Linked DNA regions of Homo sapiens. The protein of the gene in region 4 interacts with the protein of the main gene of each other region in a biochemical or structural test. Each region holds a gene or a part of one and is shown on either strand. Other genes may lie near its edges. The genes, in order: CYSLTR2, SLC34A1, SLC15A5 and PDZK1.

Region 1 (7,027 bases), on a different chromosome or scaffold from region 4:
AAACATCTTACTAAATTAGAAAAAGTTGGAAGTTTTTCTTCCAAGAACAGGGACAGACAATGATGCTTACTCTCACCACTCTTATTCAATATAGCACTGGAAATCCTAGTCAGAGTCATTAGGCAAGAGAAATAAATAAATGGCATTCATATTCAAGAGAAAGAAGTCAAATTGTTCCTGTTTACAGATGATAATCTCATATATAGAAAGACTCTACCAAAAACTCTTAGAACTAATAAATCATTCAATAAAGTTGCAGGAAACAAAATTAATATACAAACATCAGTAGTGTTTTCTACACAAACAATGAACTAGCTGGAAAAAAAATATCAAGAGGGCAATCCCATTACAACAGCTACAAACAAACAAAAAACAACCTTAGGAAGAAATGTAACCAAGGAGGTGAAAGACCTCTACAAGGAAAACTACAAGACACTGATGAAATAAATGGAAGAGGATACAAACAAATGGAAAGACAACCCATGCTCATGGAGGAGAACTAATATTGTCAAAATGACAACACTATTCAAAGCAACCTACAGATTCAATGCAATTCCTATCAAAATACCCATGACATTCTTCACATAAATAGAAAAAAGTTCTAAACTTTGTATGGAGCCACAAAAGAACCCAAATAGCTAAAGCAAACCTGAGCAAAAAGAACAAAGCTGGAAGTATCACACCACCAAACCTCAAAATACACTACAGAGTTATAGTAACCAAAATAGCATGTTACTAACAAAAGCAGACACATAGGCCAATGGAACAGAATAGAGAATCCAGAAATTAATCCAAATATCTACAGCAAACTGATTTTTGACAAAGGTGCCAAGAATACTCATTGGGGAAAAGACAGTCTCCTGAATAAATGGTTCTGGGCAAACTGGATGTCTATAGAAGAATGAAACTAGGCCCAAACCTCTCACTCTACAAAATTTAACTCAAAATGGATCAAAGACTTAAATATAAGACCCAAAATGATAAAAACTACTAGAAGGAAACATGGGACACACATTTCAGAACACTGGTCTGGGAAATGATTTTGTGAATAAAACCTCAAAAGCACAGGCAACAAAAGCAAAAATAAACAAATGGGATTATCAAACTAGAAAGTTTCTGCACAGCAAAGGAAGCAATCAACAGAGTGAAAAGATAACCTACAGAATTTGAGAAAATATTTGCAAGCTACTAATCTGACAGGTGACTAATATTCAGAATATACAAGGTACTCAAACATCTCAACAGCAAAATATTCAATTTTAAAATGGGTAAATGATTTAAACAGACATTTCACAAAGAAGACATTCAAATGGTCAACAGGTATATGAAAAAATGTTCAACATCACTAATCATCAGTGATGATTTTGCAACTCAAAACCACGATGAGGTATCATCTCACCCCAGTTAGGATGGCTATTATCAAAAAGATGAAAAAACAAATGTTGGCAAGGATGTGGAGTAAAGGGAACTCATGTGTTGTTGGTGGGACTGTAAAGTAGTATAGCCACCATGGAGAACTATATGGAGGTTCCTCAAGAAACTAAAAGTAGAATTACCATATGATCCATCAGTCTCACTTGTGGGTACTTGCCCAAAAGCTTTGAAACCAGTTTGCCTAAGAGATGTCTGCACTGACATGTTTACTGCAGCACTATTCACAATAGCCAAGTTATGGAATCAACCTAAGTGTTCAACAACAGATGAATGGATAAAGAAAATGTGGTATATATACATAATGGAATACTATTCAGCCATAAAATGGAATGAAATCTTGTCATCTGTGGCAACAAGGGTGGAAATGGAGGACATTATGTTAAGTCCATTGTATTTCCTAAACCAGAAACAGAAAGTCAAACACCATATGTTCTCACTCATATGTGGAATAGTAAAAAAAGTTGATCTCATAGAAGTAAAAAGTAGAACAGAGGAAACCAGAGGCCTGGAAGAGTGGGGGAAAGGGAGAGATTTGGTAAAGGATACAAAATTACCACTAGATGAGAGGAATAAGTTCTAATGTTCTATACCACTGTAAGATGGCTCTAATTAACAATAATGTATTAAATAGTTTCAACTAGTTCAAAGGAGGATATTGAACGATCCCAACAAAAGGAAATGATAAATATTTGAGATGATGGATATGCTAATTACCCTGATCTGATCAATATACATTACATGTATAGAAACATCAATATATACCCCATGAATATGCAATTATTATTTGTCAATTTGACAAATAAATTAAAATAAATAGAAGTGTTCACAGGAGACAGTTGGTGTAAGGTAGCAGGCCACATCTGCCACTTACTGGCTGTGAGATTTTGCAGAAGTGACCTATCTTCTCTGAGCCTCAGTTATGCCATCTATAAATGGCATAATAAATGTGAGTTGTCTCATACAGGGTGAGCGCTCAGTGATGTTAACTATTATTATTAAACCTCAGAATTGGGACCTAGAACAAGCATTAAGGAGGCAAAATTTTTGCAGGGCACTAGTAAATATATAAAAACAAGGCTGAGAAATGATTTAATGATAAAAAATGGTGAGAAGCATGACAGGTGTTGCTCTCAGCTGCAGGGAAGCAGTAACAGAGCAGCAACCTCAGGATTTAAATCCTGATTTGTTCACGGACTACCTCTATGACCATGGGAAAATGACTTTATCTCCCTCGGCGTCAGCTCCTTATCAGTAAAAGGGGGTAATGCGGCCAGGCAAAGTGGCTCATGTCTGTAATCCTAGCACTTTGGGAGGCTGAGGCAGGAAGATCGCTTGAGCCCAGGAATTCAAGAGCAGCCTGGGCAATAGAGCAAGACACTGTCTCAATAAAAAAGAAAAATTAAAAAAAAAGATTAATTTAAATAAATAAATAAAAGAAAGGGGTAATGCTAATAATAGTTCTTACTTCATAGGGTTGTAAGGATGAAGTGAGATAATACATGAATGGCACTTAGGTCAGGGCCTGGACCAGAGAAAGTGCCATATTAAGTGTTAGCTGTTGTTATTGCAAAGGCTGACAGAATAAGCTCTCTGAAGTTGTGCAGAGAGGATTCTGCAACACATTTGTTCCTCAAAATCCCAGAGGCCTCAGAGTGCTGAATTAACACGGCCCTCCAGAACAGGGAAGTATCACTGAGAGTTTACTCTTGAGACCCAAGCTGACAACTCAGAGTTTATTTGTAACAGGCTCCAAATGTCATGTCAGAAATGCCAAGCTTTCTAGACCTTCCTGGCCTTCCAAGAACGGTCTTGTGCTTTCAGAATTTTTTTTTCAAAAAGTCAAGGTGAATTAAGTTCTTGGAGATCAAAACAGAAACACAGATAAAAGGAACTGAAATTGTGACATATTTTGAATGTGAAACGGAGCTGGTCTCTGAGCTTCCAGAGGAAGTGGGATGGAGGGGAATGAATCTCACAGGGCCTTGTTTTCATGGACTCAGTGCCTTGGAGAATTTTGCTGCACTGATTTTTCCTCTACCCGGTCACCCACAAAGTGCCTCAAGGAGCCCCCAAAGTATGAGTCACTTCATTGGCCACCAGGCTGGTGACCCTTTGCTTTCTGAATGCCATTTATTTCCACATGCCACTTAACCATGAAGTCAGCACTTTGGGCCATTGGTGAAGAGTTTTCTGGCAGATCTACTGTTATCTCCCAGAGAACAACTTATCCCCAGGGATGTAGCAGGGATTGAAACCTAGCAGAAGTTTGGCATCCAAACATGCCAGGGGACACCTCTGCCCTCAAGAACAAGATGTACAGCATTACCTCAGACCTCCTTCTTCCCACCTCTGTCTTTACTAATTCTCCTTGTTTCCTTCTTTAATAGACTCCAAAAGCTAGCTTCTCTTGCACATTCATCCTACCACTAACATTCAGCCACCAAATAAACAAACAAAAATTCAACTCAACAAAAACATCATATATGAAGAGCCCTGAGCTGCTTAGAGATATGGCTTCATTTTGTTTAAAAACATTATTTTGACTAAATGTTGCCCTCTCTCTGGCTCTCAAAACTTTCCTCAGCTCTCCTTGGTTAATATAACACATGAGTCTATGATGCTGATTATGAATTTAATTTTCGTAAAAATCTCAACAATATGTTTTTCATTTTCTAATGCACTTCATCCTTGTATTTAGAAAGGTTGGCGGTATCTATTATTCACCAAATGTCTGATCTAAGGAAGACCACAGAATCACAGAATTGTTTTTTATCTGAGTCTCTGATTTCCAAGACAGAAGAACAGCAAGTGTTATCATAGAAACATTGTCCTGTTTATTCCAATAAATCCCTACGGATTGATCAACATTAGGGTCCTCCCTGTCCATAATCAAGGTAACTAAATGACATGACTCAGGAGCTCCTCACAAGCCCATTTATTCAAATTAAAACTCCCTCTCATTCTCATTTCCCCTAGACAGCATTTCATATTCCATTATTAAATTCAATTCTTAGAGAAAAGAAATTATTTACAAAGGTAGTTTGTTAAACATCATGTGTATTTCCTAAAATGACATAGAGACATTGCGATATCATGGAAAACCTCTGGAATAAATCCCAACTGAACCCAAATCCTAGCTCTTCCTTGTGCAAACTGTGTGACCATCAGAAAGTACTCAACATCTCAGAGTTATTGAGAGGACCCCAGGAGGCAGCACAGGTGACAGCCAGGGATGCAGCTACACTTTGCCTGGCACCATGCATTGTCATTCCTGTTGCCACCCCACCTGCTGCCAGTGGCATGGGGGCAGTGGGTATCTGAAATCTAAAGGAGAGAGGGCCAGGAGCAAAAGTAAACCATGGGCTCTCCTCCTCTCCTGCTTGTCCTGCTGCCCAGTGTCTCCTCTGTGGCAGACCTGGCCTGTTTACCCAGCAGCCTCCATCAACTTCCTCCTTTCATCTCAGTGGTCAGCTCAAGACCGGCCTAGTACAGGCTGTCATCTTTCACCTGCACAATGGGCACAGCCTCCTCAATGGCTCCCTATCTCCACTCTGGCTGTTCTCAATTCATTTTTCACACAGTGGCCAGAGTGACCTTTCCAAAATGCATATCTGACCACATTACTCTTCCACTTAAAACCCATTATCATCTCAGAGTCAAGTTCATCTCCAGGCTTTTCATAGTATTGATCTTGTTGTCCAGCATATTCTCTCCCCACCATCCCCTCAGTAAAGGACACTCAGTCTCATGAAGCTTATTTCAAAACCCCCAACACTGCAGGCTCTCTCTTGCCCATTTCTTCTGAGCTCCAGCTCATTTCCTGGCTATTGCTTACCCAGTCTCAGGTTTCTTTCTAAACATCACTTTCTTCAGAAAAAGTCTTCTCTGATCCCTCCATGTCTTGGCTGTTTGCAGACCCTTGGGTTTCCCATCCAGCATTTACTCCAGGGGCAGCAGTTGTCTCCTGTCTATCCCTACCCACCAGACTGTTTGCCCATGGAAGGCAAGCACGTGTCTACTGCTGTACCCCAGGCCCTAGCACAGCGTGAAGCACATGAATGTGCTCAGATCAATAAATGAGCTAATGAAGCTGTTATCCAACACCCTCATTTTATGCCTTACAATTAATATCTTTTTGGGGGGCGGGAAAGAACTCACATGGTTTTTATAATGAAATGATGTTAATGTGTTTTTCCTTGAAAATTTTCTTTTCCTGAAATTCAAATCTAAAGTCTGGGAAGAGGAATATAGGGTAAATGGTCAATGGCATGGCATGGGAGCAGAAGGCAGCCACAGAGGGTACCCAGATGGTGCTCTGTTCTAAACACTGTAGGAAGCAGCACCCTTTATATCTTGGAGGGTAGCAGACTGTTTCTCTGACTCTGTGCCAACAAGTTCCCAATAGGGATTTGTGCCTCTTACAACTAAAAGGGAGTCACCTTCATATCTCTCAGTGAATTTACAAAGGAACAGTGAATTTACAAGAGATTTACATATCTCTCAGCGAATTTACCTTATTTTTAAGGTAAGACTCAAAATAAAGAGAAACCAGCTTACTTAAAAGAATCTGGGATACAATGTTATTCAGGTGATGGTTACCCTAAAAGCCTTGACTTGACCACTACACAATTTATGCAATCTATACGTCTAATAAAATTGCATGTGTAATCCATAAATTTATACAAATTTAAAATACTTTAAAAATAATAATTTGACAAAAGAGAAAAAAGAATCTAGGATGCCTTCAAATACTCTTTAGATGATTGTTTTTCTGTACTAGAGGTACAAACAAGGTACGATGCTGTTTCTACAGCCTCATGGCAGGAGACTTACGTGGGAAATTATCTTTTTTATAATAAATTCTTATTTATATAATGTACAATGTAGGTAATAATGGTGGACTAAATTATTTTAATTTCTCCCAGCTTAATTAATATTTAAACTTCCAGAGTAAACCAGCTCCCTTCCCCTCTTTTCCTCTCTCCTTTTCCATCTCTTTCCCTCCTCTCCCCTCTCCTCTACTTCCCTCCTTTCTCTCCTTTCTTCTGTTCTTTCTATAGTCTGCTTCCTGTACTTTTTTGAAACCTCTCCGTTAAGGACTTTACACTAAAGAGGCAAAAAAAACTCTGCCTCTGGTCCCAGCTCTTCCTAAGGACCCTTCCGACTTTGGAATTTCTTGACTCCAACTCACTGCTTAGACCCTTATCCTGGGCCTCTCGAATAATAACTAGATTTCTTTGTCAAAAGACTGACTGTACTGCCACAAAGTCATCAATCCATTGGAAGAGGTTTTCCTTTAAATTCTGTCAAGATTATATTTTCTCCATGGGTCAATTAATATAAAGAGGTTAATAAAGTTCAACAGAGATAAACATTAGCTGTAACTAATAAAGTCTGCATTCATTGGGTGAATTGATTTATTTACACAATGCCTTTATTCTCAATGGAGTTTATGTGCTAGGTTCTATGCAATGACTCCAATGTCAGAGTCTTGGTCCAATAGAACATACTGTACATAAGTAACTGCAGTACAAAGGAGGCAGTGGCCAATACCCTGAGAAATAAAGAAATACAGTGCTAGGGGTTTCTGACA
Region 2 (7,053 bases), on a different chromosome or scaffold from region 4:
GTGCACACATGCCCCAGAGTGTGATGGTTAGTTTTTTTGTTTGTTTGTTTTGAGACAGAGTCTCGCTCTGTCGCCCAGGCTGGAGTGCAGTGGCATGATCTCGGCTCACTGCAAGCTCTGCCTCCTGGGTTCATGCCATTCTCCTGCCTCAGCCTCCTGAGTAGCTGGGACTGCAGACACCTGCCACCACGCCTGGCTAATGCTTTTTGGTTTTTGTTGTTTTTTTTTTTTGTATTTTTAGTAGAGACAGGGTTTCACCGTGTTAGCCAGGGTGGTCTCGATCTACTGACCTCGTGATCTGCCCCCCTCAGCCTCCCAAAGTGCTGGGATTACAGGCATGAGCCACTGCGCCCGGCCAGTGATGGTTAGTTTTATGTGTCAACTTAGCTAGGCTGTGGTACCCAGTTATTCAACCCAACACTAGCCTGGGTGTTCTGTAAGGTGTTTTGTAGATGCAATTCACGTCTACAGTCAGCTGACTTTAAGAAAAGGAGATTATCCTTGGTAACCTGGGTCAGCCTAATCCAATAGAATGAAAGGCCTCAAGCAGAACTGAGGCTTCCCTGAGAAAGGAGAAACGCTGCCCTGTCTGGACTGCAGTGTCGGCGCCCACCTGAGAGTTCCCGCCTGCCCTTCCAATGCCCTGGCCTACGGATTCCTGACTTGCCCAGACAAACTACCATCGGGGAAGCCAGTTCCTTGCCATAAATCATCTGGGTCACATACAGCTACAGTTGGGCTCCTCTCATGTCCCTGGCTGATACAGGAGTCAAGCTGAATGGAGGCCAGCCTTACTGGGGTCACGCTCCCCATTTGCCACCCTTCCCAGCTCCTGGGGTGCCCCTCCAAGCTCTTCCCCACCCTGGTGGGCCAACTCACAGCCAGAGGAGACCATGCTGACGATGATGGATGTGGAGGTGCTGGAGCTCTGCACCAGCACGGTCACCAGGATCCCCACCACCAGCCCGGCCACCGGGTTGGACAGGATGGCGTTATCCTTGAAGATGTCACCAGCCACCTTCCCTGGGGAGCATGAGCCAGCGTTGTCCAAGGCCCTTCAGGAACCCCTCCCAGGTCTCCTCCACCCGGGCCCTACCTCCAGCCAGCTGGAAGGCCGAGCTGAGCATGTCCAGGGAGCAGACGAAGAGGTAGAGGAAGGTGAGCATCAGTGGCACCTTGAGCAGCATGGCGCCAGCCTGGCGCAGCTTGGGGACCAGCCTGGACTCTGGATGGGGGAAGCCATGAGCATAGTGGGCAGAGGCCAGGGCAGGGACTGCTGCCGCCTCTGCCACCCCCAGCCCAGGCCCACCTGGCTTCTGCTCCTCCTCCAGGGCCAGCTTGGCAGGCAGTGGTTCATGGCGCTCCAGGACCTCCCCACAGGGGCAGGTGTGCTCAGCAAGGGCCACAGGGCCCAGGCTGGGGAAGGCATAGGCAGAGGTCCCCGGGATCCTGTGTAGGACTAGGGAGGGAGCCTGGTCAGGAGCCCCAGGGCCCCAAAGTGGGGAGGCGGGGAGGAACAGGCGGGGGAAGTGGCCTCATCCGGGATGTGGGCAACCGTGGGCAACCAGGGTCCAGGGTGTGGGAGCAGCACTTACCCTGAGGGCTGGGCACGTAGGCAAAGGCCGTCCCTCGCATCACATGCCCCCCACGGACTGGGAGTGGGGAGACAGCAGGGGACCCCAGCCTCTCTCCGTAGGACAACATCCTGGGCACCCACTATGAGGTCTGCAGGTCAGTGGGTCTCAGCAACGCTGAATGACAATAGCTGTGTCCGGGACACTCATGCCCACACACCCTCACCTGCACAAACCCCCATGGCGCATGATTCCAAATACACACCTAGCAAAGCACACCCTCCATCCTCACCACACACACACACCCCTCCGAGACTCACACGCACAAACACACACCCAGCAAACCACACCCTCCATCATCACCACCACAGCCCTCCGAGACTCACATGCAGACTCACATGTGCACATCTGTGCTGGGCACCTGCATGTGAGTCTCGGAGGGGTGTGTGTGGTGGTGGTGAGGTGATCATTCATTCACCATTCACTCATTCAATGAGTATTATTGAGCTCTAGCCCAGGCTCCGAACCAGAGGCTTGGATATAGCATTGATAAAAGACACTGAGAACTGAGGACGCCCAGCCTGTTTGGGGCTGGAGGGGGCCAGGGAATACGTGGTGTTGGCAGTGGCTGCAGGTGTGGGCTGGGGCTGGGCCGGGCTTCAGTTTTGCCCACCTGGAGAGCAAGGAGGAGCTGCAGACACCTGCCTTCTCATGGGGTCAGCTGGGCACACACGGAGATCCCCTGGGCCGGATCCCGAGTTCCTGGGTTCCCCTCACAATGAATTCCTTTCCCCATCCACCCCCTCAAGGGGCAATGAACAAACACTGACAGGCTTGCCTCAGCCCCCCCTTGTCCCCGCACTGCCCCAGGAGTCTTGGCTATTGGGGTGGAGTGCCCTGATCTGCCTCAGCACTCCCCGCATTGTCCCAGCGTCCTTGGCTGTTGTAGGGGTGTGAAGAGTTGAATTCAAGTCCTGAAGGAGCAGGAGTCCTTTTTTTTTTTTTTTTTGAGATGGAGTTTCACTCTTACCGCCCAGGCTGGAGTGCAGTGGCACAATCTTGGCTCACTGCAACCTCTGCCTCGTGGGTTCAAGCGATTCTCCTGCCTCAGCCTCCCAAGTAGCTGGGATTACAGGTGCCTGCCACCACACCTGGCTAATTTTTTGTATTTTTAGTGCAAACTCGACCTCAGGTGATCCGCCCACTCGGCTTCCCAAAGTGCTGGGATTACAGGTGGGAGCCACCGCGATTGGCTGGACTGACATGTTATATGGGGCGCGGTGGGGGTGGGCGCAGATAGGACACAGATGAAGGGGCTGGGGTGCTGGGCTGTTTCCTACTCAGAGCTGGGGGTGGGGTTGGGATGTGAGGGTCCTGGGCTCACCTTAGAATTCTGTGTTTCAGCTTCTGCTCAGCAGCTCAATGAAGCCTCCAGGACCCTGAGGAGAACTGAGACCCTCCTCTTTATACTCTTGGGTCAAGGGCAAAGTCCCTGGAACCCTAGCTGCCCTCCCTCTGTCCCCCAATTAACCTCACCCCTGAGATTCCTCCCAGTTAATTGCTAATCGTCAGCTCTGCATGGGGAATCTATGGTCAGGTTCTTCCCATCAACCACGACCCAGACACATCCCCCGCCTGCAGGCAGAGACCCTGATGCCACTCAGCACCTTGTTCCCAGGGTCCCCTCGTTCCTGGCCTGACAGGACTCCCCAGGGAATGACCCAAACATCCTATGGCCTTCGGAGGTTGCAGTGAGCCAAGATCGTGCCACTGCACTCCAGCCTGGGTGACAGAGTGAGACTGTCTCAGAAAAACCAAACCAAACCAAACAAAAACATCCTATGGCCTTGCCAAGCGTCGGGGTGTCTGTAAGTCTCCCAGGGGGAGCTCAGAGGAGAGGGAGTGTGAGATGAGGACCTAAGCTGGAAAGGCCGTGGAATGTTGAATCGTGGCAGGTCTCTAATGCCCGACCATGGGTCCAGGATGTGAGTCTGAGTGAATGTGGAGCCGCTGGCCAGACTGGGATGGGCCTGATCTGCCTTTTAGAATGGCCCCCGGGGTGGAACCCGGATATATGGAAGGGAGCCTGGAAGCGGAGGGGCCAGTTAAGAGGCTAATGGTCCAGGCAGGAGATGATGAGGCCTGAACTCCGATGGGAACGGAGGGGCTGGGGAGGACAGGTGCATCCCAGGGACATCTGACCAGTAGAATTGGTGACGGGGAGGGAGAGAGGAAAAGGAAATAGATGGGAGTCGGGTCTCTGGATCTTTGGCTAGGGCTGGGTTCATGCCCAGGTAGGAGGGTGTCGCTGAGTCACGGAAATGCAATCAGTTCTCAGTTCTTGTGTCAGAATCTCTGGGTCCTTGGGCTTGAAGGTGCTGTTAATGTCACATCGAGTGTCTCCACCTATGAGCAAACTGACACCCCCACAGCGGGCCCAGAGACCCCGGCCCACGTGACCTGTTTCTCTCCATTCCCCCGTGCAGTTCAGACCCTTGGCAGGAGCAGCTGAATCCAAGGTGCTCCTGGTGAACTGGGGGTGTTTCTCCTTTTTAATAAGGTTGTGCTTTTTGATATTTTTGAAGTTTGCCTTCCCTGCTGTCACGGAGCTCTGGGTTTAGTGGGGGAGGCAGTTAGCTATCGATCAAATCCATCAAGAGATATAATTCCAAAATGCTGCTGATTTACACAGCCACCACTTCTAAAGATTTATTTTGGGGCTACAGCCCTAGTGAAAGTGAGAAAATGCTGGATCTGACCAGAGCTGCTGTTGGGACTCATACAAGCAGCAGAGAAGGCAGCTCCATTCCAGCACCAACGTATCTCTTGCCAGCCTCTCTGCCATTTCAGCACCTCCCTGCCTACTGCCTGCCTCCTCCCTGGCCAGTGACAGAGTCTGTGTGTCCCCCTGGGTGGTGAGTCCCACCTTGTCTGTGCACCTGGGCTCTGGCCATGGCCTCCCCAGACCTTTTCTGGGCTGAGAGCCTGCCTGGTTGGGGGTGTCTCGCGTTGAGAAAGGAACCCAGCAGGAGGAGCTGTTTTGGAGGGAAGGTGCCAAGCTCCGTCTGCTCAGGCTTTCTGAGCGGCCTCTGGCACGAGCAGTTGGCTCTGCAAGCCAGAAGCACGCACTGTGCTTCTCACCCCAAACCTGGGCCTCCTCCTTCTTCCTGATCTTGGTGAGCGGCACACCGTCCATCCATCTGGGTCGGGCACCAAGCAGACATCCTTGCTGTTTCCTTCCCCTCCACTTCCTCGTTTCCAACTCAGTCCTCAATTCTCCCAATTTTATTGCTCCAGGAGCTCCCTGATCTTTTGCTGTTAGCCATCTCTGTGGCCACCTCCCTGGACTGGGCCTGTCATCTCCCCTGGGTCATTGCGGTCACTTCCCAAGTGCTCTGTCCATTTCTGCCCTTGCTGCCCCTGATCCATGCTCCAAAGCAGCAGACAGCAATCTTTTCAAAATGCCAAACTAGGCCGGGCGCGGTGGCTCACGCCTGTAATCCCAGCACTTTGGGAGGCCAAGGCAGGTGGATCACCTGAGGTCAGGAGTTCGAGACCAGCCTGGCCAACATGGTGAAACCCCATGTCTACTAAAAATACAAAAAAATTAGCGGGGCGTGGTGGCGGGCACCCGTAATCCCAGTTACTCGGGAGGCTGAGGCAGGAGAATCACTTGAACTCAGGAGGCAGAGGTTGCAGTGAGCCGAGATCGCACATTGCACTCCAGCCTGGGCAACAAGAGCAAAACTCTGTCTCAAAAAGAAAAAAAAAAAAAGGCCAAGTTAATCATGTCACCTCCTCTTCCTTTCGAAACCTGCCCCTGCTAACCACTTAGCATAAAGCCCAGGATCCTATAGTAGCCTGGAAGGACCAGGGTGACTTGGCTTCCTACCTGCTTTGCCAGCCTTAACCCGTGCCTGAGAAACTGTACCCCAGGGAGGACATGTACAGGAGGAGAGAAGGGGCCAGGGCCAAGCCCAGAGGAGCACCCACTTTTTTTTTTTTTGAGACAGAGTCTCGCTCTGTCGCCCAGGCTGGAGTGCAGTGGCGCGATCTCAGCTTACTGAAACCTCTGTCTCCCAGGTTCAAGCGATTCTCCTGGTTCAGCCTTCTGAGTAGCTGGGACTACAGGCACCCGCCACCACGCCCAGCTAATTTTTGTATTTTTAGTAGAGACAGGGTTTCACGATGTTGGCCAGGATGGTCTCGATCTCCTGACCTTGTGATCCACCCGCCTCAGCCTCCTAACGTGCTGGGATTACAGGCGTGAGCCACGGCACCTGGCCAGCACCCACATTTAAGGGAGACTGAGAGGAGCAGCCACGGACCAGGAGGAAGCCACCTCAGAAGCCAGGCTGGACCACATTTTGAGAGAGACACCCTGGTTGGCTGGGTCAAGTGCTGCTAAGATGTCAAGTAATCTGAGAACAGAGAGGCTTTAACAACCAAGGGCTGTCAGCCACCTGGGAGGGCATGTTGGGGGAGGAGTCAGCTTGTGATGGTGTGGGAAGGAGCGGGAGGCGGGGGAGCAGAGACAGCATCGCCAGCGTGAATATGAGACGCTGACATATATTAAATTTCATCACACCAGTGAAAACCATTTCTCCGGGAGAGGCATCACTGCTGAACGGAGAGAGAGAGAACGATCCCAAGAACAAATGTGCACATCCAGGAACTGAGCAAGCTGTGGAGGCTGGCACAACCAGCCGTTTCTGCAATTCTTCAGAGCCATGTGCTCCTTAAATGCACAGTTTGCTGCATGTGGGTTTTCCGCAGGACCTAAAGTTGAAGATGGTCAAGGGAAGAAGAACCCTTGAGCATCTTATGCCGGCATTCACACCAGCACAACTGCCATGCACACAGTCATGAGTGTGCACTGCACACGTCGGGGCGCATCCCCTCCAAATCTCAGGCCTGTAATCCCAGCACTTGGAGGCTGAGGTGGGAGGGTCACTTGAGCCCAGGAGTCCAAGACCAGCCTGGGCAACATAGCAAGACACTGCCTCTAAAAAAATTAATAAATAATTAGCCAGGTGTGGTGGCACGCATCTGTAGCTGGGGAGGCTGAGGTGGGAGGATTGCTGAAATCTGGGAAGGCAAGGCTACAGTGAGCTGTGATTGCACCATTGCCCTCCAGCCTGGGTGACGGAGCGAGACCCTGTGTCAAAAACATAAATAAATAAATAAATAAATAAATAAATAAATAAAAGAGGCTGGGTGCGGTGGCTCACGCCTGTAATCCCAGCACTTTGGGAGGCTAAGGCAGGCAGATCACCTGAGGTCAGGAGTTCGAGACCAGCCTGGCCAACATGGTGAAACCCCGTCTCTACTAAAAATACAAACATTAGCCAGGCGTGGTGCCGCGCACCTGTAATCCCAGCTACTTGGGAGACTGAGGCAAGAGAATTGCTTGAACTCAGGAGGTGAAGGTTGCAGTGAGCCAAGATGATGCCACTGCACTCCAGCCTGGGTGACAAGA
Region 3 (7,027 bases), on a different chromosome or scaffold from region 4:
GTATAGTAAAATATGATACTATAATCTTATGAAACTGCCGTCATATACGTGATCCATCATTGATCAAAATGTTGTTACGTGTTGCATGACTGTACTGTAAACACTAAACATTTAGTTTCCTTCTCTATGAGAAGTAAGAGATCTTATTATCTCTTCCTGCTCCTCTCGGGAATATTTACCCCTGGTTTTTTGTTTGCTTGTTTGTTTGTTTTTAATACTTTGCTGCAGCAAAACTCTGCATTTACCAGAACTTTTCCATGATCTTACTAACACATGATGTAAATGTATTAATGCTCCTTCCTTAATTTAAAATTTCTGTTTTACTTTCGGTGTGTCCTGCACATGTCTTGATTTATTTATCCCATAAAGATTTAAAGGAATCCCATTTTGCACTTCAGGAAAGTGCTCAGTGCTGGAACTGAGAGGTGGGAAAAGGCATCAGTTTATCTTTCCTGGACTTTAAACTCTGGAGCAGAAACAGCACATTATTTAGTACAAAGGGCAGTGCTAAATGTGCACTTTTCCCACAAACGCTGATTGGAGATGAAGATAATAATGGTGATAGGTAAAATACTGTGGAGAAGGGCTTCAAATATTGGTGGCACGGTAGCACAGCTCTTTGTGTAGTACCAATCACCAGCAGGAACCTTGGAGTATTTTCAGAAAGGTCCAAATGGGAATATGAGAGGAAGCCTGAATAGGCTTTGGGAATAAATGATTCACAGTTATAAAAAGGATTTGGCTTATAAACTTTCCTTTCCATAAGTACAAGGAGACAAGCAATGAGCAGAAAGAGTAAGTAGGCCTATTTCTTTCACTAAGAAAAAGCAGAACATACAAGCCCATTATTACTCTGCTAGTTAATTATTAATCCTATGCTTTTCTCCTGCTAGAACTTCTGGTACGGTATATAATTCATGAACACACTTTGCCAGCTCTCTGCCTGCTGGTTAATCTCTCTTTGGTGTCATTTTAGTCGTTTTTGAAAACCTCCAGTTCCCTTTTATAGGACTTAGCTTTTCAAGTCCTCGAATCTTCATTTTTAGGCATCTACTTGCATGTTCTGATCTTTTGAAACTTTAGTGATCATCAATTTGATTTTTTTTAGGCTCCGAGATATTTCTTTTAGCCCATTACAATGTAGATAATATCAATAAGTCTGTCACTATTGTAAAGTTCCCGTTTTTCTATGAAGACACAATAAAAAATATTCAGTGTGTACGTGAAAGCTGGTCTTCTTGCCAATGAGCGCTAAAAATGTGCCTCCAGGTAGTAGCTGGTTAGTGCTTGTAAAGATGCCACATCACAGCATATGAGGAATCTTCAAAATATAGGGCCATAACCACCTTCCTAAGGCACCTGGTACTGGGGACTTATTGCTGGAAATATTTTTTACTCTCGTTGTTCTTAAACAGTTAAAATGTGTGTATTGTGTTTGGTGAAAAGTTATTTTGAACATGTGGAGAAGAAGTACCACAGTCCCAGAAAATGGAACTTTATCCTGTTGCCATTTTTAGACCATTATATCTCCCTTAACCCTAAAAAAGCTTCAGCTTTGAAGCTCATGTTATCAGACTATATCATCTACTTCCCTTTCATGCTGTCATCTGCCAATCTATAGGACATTTTCCTCTTTTTCTCAGAGTTGTCAGTTCCTCTCTCATTGTCACACTCTCTGGTACTACTTCTGCCTTAATACTTGGCAATTTTACTATACATGTAGATCATCCTTCCCACCTTCCATCCTTTCAATCTTGGTTGTCCAGTTCCTTGACCTCCAATGTCTGATCTCCAATCTACCTCAGCTTCCACTCCACTCACACCCAAGGTCATGGCCTATGCCTTGTACCTCAGACCAGTGGTTGGCCAGCTATGGTCAGGTAATATTCAGTTTGCCACCTATTTTAATAAAGTTTTATTGGAACACAGCCACGCTCATTTATTATATGTTGTCTATGGCTGCATTCATACCACAATGACATAGTTGAGTAATTGTAACAGAGACTGGCCTGCAAAACCATGTGTTGGATCAATAACTGTACCCACTCCATAATCACAATTTTGTGCACCCTTCTCTGATTAGAGCCTTCTATCTTCCCAACTTACTCTCCACTACTCAACCACAGAGATGCTATAAGCTATAATGGCAGAAATTTTTGTCTTATTTTTTTTAACTGATGTGTCTAAAACTTCGAGAGCAGTATTAGGCACACTGTAGACACCCACACAGTATTTTTTGAATAAACAAACATAGGGTATGAGACAGCTGAGGTGTACGCTGCTACAATTAAAACATAATTTGAAAAGTTTCCTACTGCTTTTTTTTTTCTAGCTCATCTCCAATGTATAACATGTCTTAGTAGGGTAGGCTATGTCTACTGTCATTTATGGAGTGATTCACTGTGTTTCCTTGCTCAATGCCATCAATGTAGGACACTGTCAAAAGTTTGAATAATACATTTTTATTGTACCATATAGAAATAGCCGTAGACTTCATTCATTTGTTTCTTCAATCAAAATGTATTTATTGATCACCTATTTTGTATATGTACTTTTCGGAAAGGAGAAACATACCTTGATGTCAGGAATGTATATTCTTACAGTGAGAGGCAGGCAATACAAATATAAATAAAGTAATTTCAGATTCTGACAAGTGCTATTTAAAAAACCAGGGTAATTAAGTGGAAAGTGATGGAATGCTCAAGGAAGCCCCTCCAAAGAGAAGACCTTTGAGAAAGCTCAATAATGAGAAGCCAGTCATTTGAAAACAGAGGAAAGGGAATTCTGAATAAAGGATAAAGCAAGTACAAAGGACTTGGGGTAGACAGAAATCTAGCATCTTAGAAACACACACATTTCTGGGGATGTGGTCAAGGGGCAGATTGTAACCAAATGTAGGTGGAACAACACGTGGAGACCAAATCATGTGGAACATTATTCACCATTGTGAATAATTTATCTCTAAAACTCTACTGTGGAATTTCAATCAGGGGAATGATAGAACTTATGTTTTGAGAAGAACACCACAACTGTTTTGAAGAGAATGGACTCATGGGGCAGGAGAGGAAGCAGGGAGAAAAGTTCAGAGGCTCTGGTCGAATTGGGGCTGGAGATGATGGTGTTGTACACCAGGAGAACAAAGGGGATAGTGAGATGTGGCCAGATTTAAGTTATATTTCAGAGTAAAAATGAGGACTTGCTGTTGGATTGGAGGGGAGAGGTGAGAGGAAAGAGATGGATCTAGGATGAATCAAGTGAGAGACAGTTCTGCTTATGCTTCCAGGTCTCCCAGCTGTTCAGGTGGTTTATGGCAGAAAGAGCTGGGAACAGGACACCTGTGCTTCTGTTCTGAGTCTGACACTATTAATTCATGTGAAACATGATAATAATATTAGGTTGGTGAAAAAGTAATTGTGGTTTTTGCCATTACTTTTAGTAATGATAACAACACATTATAACTGCTAATTATTGAATGCTGTCTATATACGGGGCACTGCGGTTTTTGCTTTACATAAAATCTTCCACTTAGTCCTTTGAACAACTCCCTGTTTTATAGATGATGAGAAAAGCCCAGAAATGAGGAATAATTTTCCCAACGTCACAGAGTTAGTCAGTGACAGAACTGGGTTTGAATTCAGATCTGTCTGACTTTAAGACCATAGAGCCTAACCTCTGTGCTGTACTGTCTCCCAGAAAGGTAATACTTGATTTTATAGTTTGAAATACCCTTTCATATGTTATGTCATTTGATTTTCAAGGAGTAGTCTCTCATTCCCATTGATGCTTACCCTATCAATGCTGTGATATAAAGAAGAATACAATTATTTCTATTTTAAATATCAGAAAAGTGAGGATTGGAGGTTAAATGAGTTCCCAAATTTATGTAGGTAGTAATGGAAAAGCTAGATATCAGACCAAATTCTTTCAGTCCCTGGTCCATTATCCCAATAGCAGATGAGTCAAGTGACTTAGACCTCAGTTAGGCCTGATTTCCTGGAGTAAATCAGGGAGTGGTGGAGTAAGTGATGTGTAGCACATGATCTGCCTTTTTCACAGTCATTGGTTTTCTGTACCTCTCTGGCTTCTGAATGTTGAACCACTATTGCTAAGCTGGCTAGCAATTTCCTCCACATATTCACTCATTACTTTTACTCATTATTTACTCTATACCAGCCCAGAAAATTTTGGCTGACTACTTCCAACACATTTTTGGGAATAACATCAGAGAAGATCACAAATATTTGTGTAGTAGCATTGCTTTACACTTCTTTTGTCTTCCTTGCAGTGTTAAACAGTGAGGTCCCCAGTTTAAAATCTCATAAAGTAATTTATGTATGCAAAATATATGGGATGAAATGATATACAATTATAAAAAAAGAAGTCTGAGACACACATATATATGCATATACTCCAACTTAATTTTATTTTCATTATTTAATGAATTGCCTTGGTATCATAAGTATGTGTGTGTATAAATACATATTTATTAAATATTTATTTTAAGGAGTTTGGAAACAACTTTTAAGATAATAGAATCATTGAAGATTGTAGACACAGATGGAATGGTTAGAATTGTTATTTAGGATGATTACTCTAAAATCCATGTGCCAGTTGATAGAATGGGAGAGATAATGGAGGTCGGAAGATAGTTAGAAGTTATAAAAATATTATCCATAAAATATAATGGGAGCTTGAGTTACAATCAGGACTCCTACTACACGAAAATTTAAGGAGGATAGAAACATAAGATGTAATCAATTACAGAGATAAATAGATGTACACACACATTACTGTATTGCAAGAAGCCACTGAAATATTGTGATAAATTGTAAAGTGGCTAGTTTAATTAATATAAGCAATCTAGATAATTCAGAAACCCTTGATATTTAATAAACTTATTTTGAACCTGTCTTATGAAACATTAGTGATCTCATTTAATCTAGTGTAATTTAATTCAAAGACATCAAGTTATCTGGAAAATTGGCTTAAATTTTCATTTCATTTGCATGTTTATATACTCTCAAAGAACATTAAGTGTCATTTTTGGAGGAGTATAAATGAGCTTTTTTTTTTTTTGAGATGGAGTCTCACTCTGTCACCAGGCTGGAGTGCAGCGGCACAATCTCGGCTCACTGCAACCTCCGCCTCCCGGGTTCAAGTGATTCTCCTGCCTCAGCCTCCTTGAGTAGCTGGGACTACAGGCGCCTGCCACCACACCTGGCTAATTTTTTGTATTTTTAGTAGAGACAGGGTTTCACCATGTTGGCCAGGATGGTCTTGATCTCTTGACCTCGTGATCCACCTGCCTTGGCCTCCCAAAGTGCTGGGATTACAGGCGTGAGCCACCGCACCCGGCCTGTGAGTTTATCTATGAGTGAGAGTCGGGGAGGTGAGAGGAGGGAAGGGAGAAGAGAAGAGGCTTTACATCTTAGTGTTCTGGAGTTGTCTTCTGGGTTTTAGCAGAGGTTTTCCTCCTGTGGTGTGTCTGACAAAATGGTTATTGCCTTTAACCAGATTAAAAATCTTTTGTTCCATCTGCATCCAGGCAGAATTGATAATTGTTCTGTGCATGGCAGAGGAATGAGGAGAAATGAAATGTTTGTAAAAAAGTAATAAATAAATTTGCTGGAAGTATTGTGGGAACTCTCTAGGAGGTGAATAGATGACATACCACTTTAATTGTTCTGGTTGAGGTGATGTGTTCTGTGTAAAGGTTCAGTATGTTCTAACATTAGTTGAAAAGGTGTTTACTCACGGGCTGGGTTTACCAGTGTTTCCGCCACTCCAAGTAAAACATACTGAAGAATCAGGTAGAAACAGGGCATGGAGGAAACAGTGAGAACTTTTCCTGAAAGGGGCTGCTCCACTGCAGGGAAATGTTTTCGGTGTATTTCAAAGAAGCCAGCTATCATCACAGACAATGCAGCAAAAAGATTTCCAGCAACTGAAGGAAAATAATGCAAAAGAAAAAAAAGTTAAACGAAGAGCTAGAGATTCATGTAATAAGCCATAACATTTCTTACCCATTGACATTAGATGTTTCTTTTTTGTTTGTTTGTTTTTATTTTTTTTTAATTTTTTTATTATACTTTAAGTTCTAGGGTACATGTGTACAATGTGCAGGTTTGTTACATATGTATACATGTGCCATGTTGGTGTTCTGCACCCATTAACTCGTCATTTACAATAGGTATATCTCCTAATGCTATTCCTCCCCCCTCCCCCCACCCCACAACAGGCCCTGGTGTGTGATGTTCCCCTTCCTGTGTCCAAGTATTCTCATTGTTCAATTCCCACCTATGAGTGAGAACATGCGGTGTTTGGTTTTTTGTCCTTATGATAGTTTGCTGAGAATGATGGTTTCCAGCTTCATCCACGTTCCTACAAAGGACATGAACCCATGATTTTTTATGGCTGCATAGTATTCCATGGTGTATATGTGCCACATTTTCTTAATCCAGTCTATCATTGTTGGACATTTGGTTTGGTTCCAAGTCTTTGCTATTGTGAGTAGTGCCGCAATAAACATACATGTGCATGTGTATTTATAGCAGCATGATTTATATTCCTTTGGGTATATACCCAGTAATGGGATGGTTGGGTCAAATGGTATTTCTAGTTCTAGATCCCTGAGGAATGGCCACACTGTCTTCCACAATGGTTGAACTAGTTTACAGTCCCACCAACAGTGGAAAAGTGTTCCTATAGGCAATACCATTCAGGACATAGGCATGGGCAAGGACTTCATGTCTAAAACACCAAAAGCAATGGCAACAAAAGCCAAAATTGGCAAATGGGATCTAATTAAACTCAAGAGCTTCTGCACAGCAAAAGAAACTATCATCAGAGTGAACAGGCAACCTACAGAATGGGAGAAAATTTTTGCAATCTACTCATCTGACAAAGGGCTAATATCCAGAATCTACAAAGAATTCAAACAAATTTACAAGAAAAAAACAACCCCATCAAAAAGTGAGTGAAGGATATGAACAGACACTTCTCAAAAGAAGACATTTATGCAGCCAAC
Region 4 (7,027 bases):
CAACTAGAGAAGGTTTGCTTTTGGTCTGAGGTGGTCACTGGTTTCTGAGGTGCCAAGCCTGGTTGGAGGCACAGATAGTCAGCATTCATAAAGCTGCGTAGAACCATGGGGTCCCAATGGGGACATGAAACTAAATGATCCAGAAAAGCCCGTGGACTTTCCACCAGTTGTATTGAATACATACCTGATGGTGTGAGAATACAGAAAGGGGCTGTGGTGCCTGCTCTTAAGAAAGCTTATCTTGGCTGGGCATGATGGCTCACGCCTGTAATCCCAGCACTTTGGGAGGCTGAGGAGGGTGGATCACTTGAGGTCAGGAGTTTGAGACCAGCCTGGCCAACATAGTGAAACCCCATCTCTACTAAAAATACAAAAAGTAGCCGGGTGTGGTGGCGGGTGCCTTCAATCCCAGCTTCTCAGGAGGCTGAGGCAGAAGAATTGCTTGAATCCAAGTGGCAGAGGTTGCAGTGAGCCGAGATCGCACCACTGCACTCTAGCCTGGACCACAAGAGCAAGATTCCATCCCTCCTGGCCAAAAAAAAAAAGCTTATCTTGTTGGGGACACACGACATGGATCCTGAAGCTCCTCTATAGTCTACTGGACTGAGTCCAGTGCTCACAGTCTAACCTACTTCTTTTTTTCAACATATAACTGTGCTCTGATCTTTCTGAACCATTCACCATTCTGGGAATGCATCTCCTGCTGTTCCTTCTGCCTGGGATGACTTCCTCTTCCTAGTCTGACTACTTGTATTTCCAGAATACATTCTACACCTCAGGCCTGGGAGGCAGGGTAGATGGTGGAAGGAATCCAGACTCAACTGGGTTTGAATCCAGACTCTGCTTATCCAAATAGTCAGGGGAAACCAAGTTAACTTTTCAGAGTCTCTTTTCTTTTTCCTTGTAAAATGGCCCATCAGGATTGAATCAGAACCCATAAAAAGTACCTAGGCTGGTTCCTAATCCTAGTAGGGAGCTCAATAAATATATATAACAATAAGAAAGCTTTTGTATTTAAATATTCCAGCACCCACAACGTTGTTCAGCAGTTAAACTTCATAACTCTCCCCACTGGACTCCAGGCTCTTTCAGGGCAGGACGGTAGCTATTCTGGGTTGAGCCCTGATACCTGCCTCGCAGTAGGTATTACATAGAACTTGTTAAGTACATGAGCGATAACTGAAATTCAGAAGATGAAATGATACCTTCAGACTGTGGTGGTCATGGAAGGATTCGTATATAATCTAAAATTTGAACTGAGCCTTGAAAATGGTAGGTCTTAAATTCGTTCACTTGGAACAAATGTTTACTTAGCACGTACTATGAGTAAGTGCTCATGGGGCATGAGCAAAGGGCAGGCTCGTGTGGGTGACCATGCATAGACCAATTGGGGCTTGCTGAGGAGCTGGGGGCCTGAGGTAGGGCTGGATTATGCTGAGCCTCAGTGCCTGAGCAAGAAGCTTGAACTTCTTTTTTTTTGAGACGGAGTCTTGCTCTGTTGCCCAGGCTGGGGTGCAGTGGCACGATCTTGGCTCACTGCAAGCTCCGCCTCTTGGGTTCACACCATTCCCCTACCTCAGCCTCCCGAGTAGCTTGGACTACAGGCGTCCGCCACCACACCCAGCTAATTTTTTGTATTTTTAGTAGAGATGGGGTTTCACTGTGTTAGCCAGGATGGTCTCGATCTCCTGACCTCGTGATCCGCCTGCCTTGGCCTCCCAAAGTGCTGGGATTACAGGCGTGAGCCACTGCACCCGGCCGAGCTTCTTTTTCTTGAATTATTATTATTATTATTTTTGAGATGGTAGTATAATAAAACCAGGGTTAGAAAGTTTGTCTCGAGGCAAGACTCTTGTAGTAGTTTAAACATACCAAAAAAAAAGTGGGGGGGTAGAAATGCAAGTTCAAAAAGTCACAAAATGTCGATTTGGGGAAAGCACTTGTCTCAGCTGGCACTCAAGGCGGTTGAGCTGTCTATCAGCAGCATGAGGGTGTCCTCTCTCTGTGGGTGCCTCTGTTTCCACACAATATTGGCTCTATCCCTCTCCCAACTCATAGAACTCTTAGATAAGCAATCAAACTGTGAAAGGCCTTGAACTCCAGCCCAGAGTCTTGCCATATAGGACAAAGTATTGTTTATGGTGGCTGGAGGTAGGGAAGGTACTTAGTATCAGCAGGCCAAATGAACTTTGGGATAAGTAGATTCCATTCTTGATCATAAATGAGAAATAAAAACTACTCAGTGGGTCTGGGATCACTCTTCTCCAGATAATTCTCAATGGAATGGATTTCATTGATTTCTCATATTTGAAATTTATCCCTGGCTAAGACCAAACAGTAACTATCACAATGGGAAAGTACACTAGGCAAATACATATTTTAGAATCTTGCTTCTCCTTCTATTTTTGATATTAATTATTTAAAGTAAATATACTTGAGTATTTGAATTTCCATATGCTTTGCTTTTCAGAGGAGAAATCCAGGCAGCCTTAAATATGATCTGCATAAAAATATAGGATCTGTTCTAGGTAAAATATATTTGAAGAAGGGTGAAATTGAGTTGTCTTTATCTCTTCCTTGCTAGAGACATCTGTCAGTAGCAGCTCAGATACAGCAGGATTTTTTTGCTTATGCTGTTGGAAGGAACAGCATGTGCCAAGGCTCTGTGGCAGGCTCTGAAGGAGGCCAGCCATGGCTGGTGTGAGGCATGAAGCCTTGGAGTCAGGGCTGATGCCTGTAGGGAATTCTCAGCCTGTCTATAGTTGCTGGCTTAATGTTGCACAGTCTCCACCAACTGTATTTTCCTAACAAAAGTCTAGTGGGTTTGTTTTCTTCTTTCTTGTTACACAGATGCACACAAGTGCTGCAAGAACAGCATTCCTCAAAGTGCACACTGTGGTCAAGCGTCCTGAGAATGTGGCTTTTTTCTTGCTAAAGTTCAGAGTGTTTTATAGGCAAGCATGGAGTTCAGTGGAAAGCAAGTAATGTCTAGGTTTAATGTTGCCGGAGAGACCCTGCCCTTTCTTTTCCTTATGCCTCAACAAAACAGAAGTAACTTACTCTATGGTTTCATACTAGATTATACAATCAGATACCCTTCCACAGTCAGAGTAACTAGGGTTAAACATTCCTCACCAGCAGTCCTGCTAAGTGTTTGTTTTTTTTTTGAGATGGAGTCTCGCTCTGTTGCCCAGGTTGGAGTGCAGTGGTACTATCTTGGCTCACTGCAACCTCCACCTCCTGGGTTCAAGCAATTCTCCTGTCTCAGCCTCCCGAGTAGCTGGGACTACAGGCGTGTGCCACCACACCCAGCTGATTTTTGTATTTTTAGTAGAGACGGGGTTTCACCATATTGGTCAGGCTGGTCTCAAACTGCTGACCTCAGGTGATCCTCCTGTCTCAGCCTCCCAAACTGCTGGGATTACAGGCATGAGCCCCCGCGCCCAGCCCCTGCTAAGTTTTTAGTGTTTAGTGTTTTCATGGATTGAGTGTTGGTTATGTAAGTGCCTTGTGGGGAGAGGCTCTGTTGTCTTCGTGGTGTGATACTGACGGCATAATTGATTCCTAGTTACTATTAGATAAGGTGATGGTGGGTTCAGGTGTAGATGACTATATTTATGGAATAATCCTGCCACTTCTAAGTCCCAGACCTTGGAAGATGAGCAGAGATGACAGTACCTGGGCTGTTTCTTTCCTGATGGTATTTCATTGCATCTGGCCATCGCTGGTGACAGCCCCCTTCTGTCTTTCTCCCTCCAAGCAGAATGCTGTTTATCCCATGCCCTCTCTCTGATCTTTTGGCATTTCAGTGATGCTGTCTGGTGAGTGAGCCTATTCACTAGCTACTCCTTGGCTATGAAGGTCCCTCTCTGGGCCAGGTATCTATAGCTAAGGTAATGCTTCACTCACTCCATCTTCTCCACTGCTGTCTGTTCCTTGGGTCCCTATGTTCACTTCTGTTAGAGCTTATCCACTCCAGGCGGTGGAACTCTCTGGCCAGCTTAGTCTTGAAATTCTGTTAAAGCTCCCTGGACTCTTTTACCTCCTTGATACACAGCATTTGGTTCTATTTTGTAATTCCCTGGCTTTTAGACTTACAGGATACTTTTGAGTCCAGAGTTTATTATTTGAGCTTTCTTTCATGGGGAACAAAATCTCCAGCCCTGACTTTTCAGCAGCTAAAATTAGCTTCGCAGAAGTGATCTGGACTGAGTAGATAGAGAATCCCTTGCCTGATCATTGAGGTGCCTGCCCATTCTTAGTCTGTAATTTCTTCCTGTCTTCTGCAAAAAGAAAATCAGGAAAAATTTCAAATATTCTCACAGAAAATGGGATTCCCATTGCATCAGGCGTTTCATCAGAGGACAGGAAAGAGTAACTTGGATGGAGTGGACTTCTATGCTCCAGAAACTGTGCTGAGAGGCCTTGCATGCTCTACTGTGAGCCATCTTCACGGCATCCACATGTGCTTCCTATTCTAGGGGTATTCTATCTTCAGCTCAAAATTAAGGAACTCACCCATGTTCTTACAGTTAACAAGCGGTGAAGCCAGGATTAAAAACTAGGTTTGGCTCTAAAACCCTTGCTCTTTCTACTCTACCTTACTCAGAATCGATCCTGGGGGAAGATGGAAACAAAAATACAGATTCCCTTTTGTATACACATCTGGCTCCTTTAGAATTGCATCATGGGGAACTATTCTGCTCTAAAGATCTTTTCAGATAACTTTTCCTGTGTCAACCCACTAACTTTTGAAACTGCTTCCACAGTCCCTTCTTCTTTCTTCCCAACTCATGCTGCTAAGCTAGTCCCTGAAACATTTCATCTTCCCAATCCCAAACTCCTAGCTCCTCTTATCTGCCAATTCATGTTGGCCCCACAGTCTGACATTCCAGCTCTGTGCCCCTTGTAAATCTAGAAATCCTCACATCCTACTCTTATGGGCTTGTTAGTTTGAGATGGAGTCTTGCTGTGTCACTGAGGCTGGAGTGAGTGGTACAATCTTGGCTCACTGCAACCTCCACCTCCCGGGTTCAAGCGATTCCTGTGCCTCAGCCTCCTGAGTAGCTGGGATTACAGGCACGCACAACCACGCCCAGCTAATTTTTAAATTTATTTTATTTTTTTTTAAATTTGAGATGGAGTTTCACTCGTTGCCCAGGCTGGAGTGTAATGGCGTGATCTCAGCTCACTGCAACCTTTGCCTCCTGGGTTCAAGTGATTCTCCTGCCTCAGACTCCTGAGTAGCTGGGATTACAGATGCCCACCACCAAGCCTGGCTAATTTTTGTATTTTTAGTAGAGACAGGGTTTCGCCAAGTTGGCCACGCTGGTCTCAAACTCCTGACCTCAGGTGATCCGCCTGCCTCGGCCTCCAAAAGTGCTGGGATTACAGGCATGAACCACTGTACCTGGCCTTTATTTTTTATTTTTTGAGGCAGACTCTCGTTCTGTCGCCCAGGCTGGAGTGCAGTGGTGCAATCTTGGCTTACTGCAGCCTCCGCCTCCCGCCTCCCGGGTTCAAGCAATTCTCCTGTCTCAGCCTCCGGAGTATATGGGGTTATAGGTGCCTGCCACCACACCTGGCTAATGTTTTTTGTGTTTTTAGGAGAGATGAGGTTTCACCATGTTGGCCAAGCTGGTCTCGAACTCCTGACCTCAAGTAATTCACCCGTCTCGGCCTCCCAAAGTGCTGGGATTATAGGTGTGAGCCACTGCGCCTGGCCTACCCTTATGTTTTAAAAATATGTTAGCCCCAACTTAGGGTAAAAGTTACCACTTTCCTTTTCTATTCTTGATGTATATTACTGTAAGAAAAATCCATGGGAACCCATGCTGCTGCAAGTTTATTATATATATATATTTTAACCTAAGTTGTTTCTTAGACATTTTAATTCAATTCATTGACTCTTTGTAGTGAGCTAATGCTGTGGCCATTAGTTCACTGTCTTAGTTCACCGCCAGCTCGGGGGCTCCATTCTCTTTTGGTTTACATAGAATTTCTTTTAAGTTTGAAATAGCTGTCAGTTTTTTTAAATGGGGACATTTTATGTAAATCTAGATTTCCAGAGTCTCTTGAAAATTGAAAGGTGGCATGCTGGCCTCCTCTTCCTCAGGCAGTTGTCTTCTCATGAAAAGCAGCAGCTTTTCCTCCGTCCCCTCTCGGCCACCTTCGCTGATTTACCTGTTTGACCCTAGAGATTATTTTTCTGTGGTACTTTTGCTCCATATTCTCCAAGTTCCTGATTTTTGTCAGCTACTTCGTAGGAGAGATTGAGGCTGAGGTAAGTGACCTTGTTTTCTTCTTTATCATATTTTTTTCTACTTCTCTTCTGCCCCTGGAGAAGAGGTATTTCCTCTCACCAAGGCTAACCCCAGTTTCCATGTTCTCCATATCATCTCTTGATACAGAAACATGCTGATCGTTTCCTTAATGTTAAAAATAAAAACATCCAGGCTGGGTGCAGTGGCTCATGCCTGTAATCCCAGCACTTTGGGAGGCTGAGGCGGGCGGACCACAAGGTCAGGAGTTTGAGACCAGCCTGACCAACATGGTGAAATCCTGTCTCTACTAAAAAAAAAAAAAAAAAAAAAAAAAAAAAAAAAAAATTAGCTGGGCATGGTGGCGGGTGCCTGAAATCCCAACTACTCAGGAGGCTGAGCAGGAGACTTGCTTGAATCTGGGAGGCAGAGGTTGCAGTGAGCTGAGATCGCACCACTGCACTCCAGCCTGGGTGACAGAGCGAGACTGTCTCAAAAAATAAAATATCAATATTCGTTGCTTCTGTTACTTGGTATCCACTTGCTTCTTAGTGTTTTATCAGGCCCAGACTTCCATTTTCTGAATGTCAGTGGCATTTTCTGTTTTCATTCTCTCTACCTCTTAGCATTATTTGGCATTGTTAACTATCCCATCTTAAAATTCTTCTTTTAGTTTTGATGACACTAAAATTTTGGCATTTTGTTTTCTGATTATTCCTTTTTGCTTCCTCTTTCTTTTCTCTCTTTCTCTTTCTCTCTTTCCCTTC

Evidence for each region.
Region 1: the proteins of PDZK1 (region 4) and CYSLTR2 interact in a test that uses a peptide from one of them, tested with the Homo sapiens proteins (2 studies listed by IntAct, with this or other methods).
Region 2: the proteins of PDZK1 (region 4) and SLC34A1 form a complex in vitro, tested with the Homo sapiens proteins (2 studies listed by BioGRID and IntAct, with this or other methods).
Region 3: the proteins of PDZK1 (region 4) and SLC15A5 interact in a test that uses a peptide from one of them, tested with the Homo sapiens proteins (2 studies listed by IntAct, with this or other methods).

The regions. Positions count from the first base shown.
Region 1 is NC_000013.11:48,656,927-48,663,953, reverse strand, and holds part of CYSLTR2 (cysteinyl leukotriene receptor 2), read right to left. Parts: intron 1-7,027. UniProt on the Homo sapiens protein: Receptor for cysteinyl leukotrienes. The response is mediated via a G-protein that activates a phosphatidylinositol-calcium second messenger system.
Region 2 is NC_000005.10:177,380,393-177,387,445, reverse strand, and holds the start of SLC34A1 (sodium-dependent phosphate transport protein 2A), read right to left. Parts: upstream 3,013-7,053; 5' UTR 2,959-3,012; intron 1,752-2,958; 5' UTR 1,705-1,751; coding exon 1,596-1,704; intron 1,460-1,595; coding exon 1,310-1,459; intron 1,226-1,309; coding exon 1,097-1,225; intron 1,024-1,096; coding exon 880-1,023; intron 1-879.
Region 3 is NC_000012.12:16,218,659-16,225,685, forward strand, and holds part of SLC15A5 (solute carrier family 15 member 5), read right to left. Parts: intron 5,945-7,027; coding exon 5,756-5,944; intron 1-5,755. UniProt on the Homo sapiens protein: Proton oligopeptide cotransporter.
Region 4 is NC_000001.11:145,697,345-145,704,371, reverse strand, and holds part of PDZK1 (Na(+)/H(+) exchange regulatory cofactor NHE-RF3), read left to right. Parts: intron 1-7,027. UniProt on the Homo sapiens protein: A scaffold protein that connects plasma membrane proteins and regulatory components, regulating their surface expression in epithelial cells apical domains.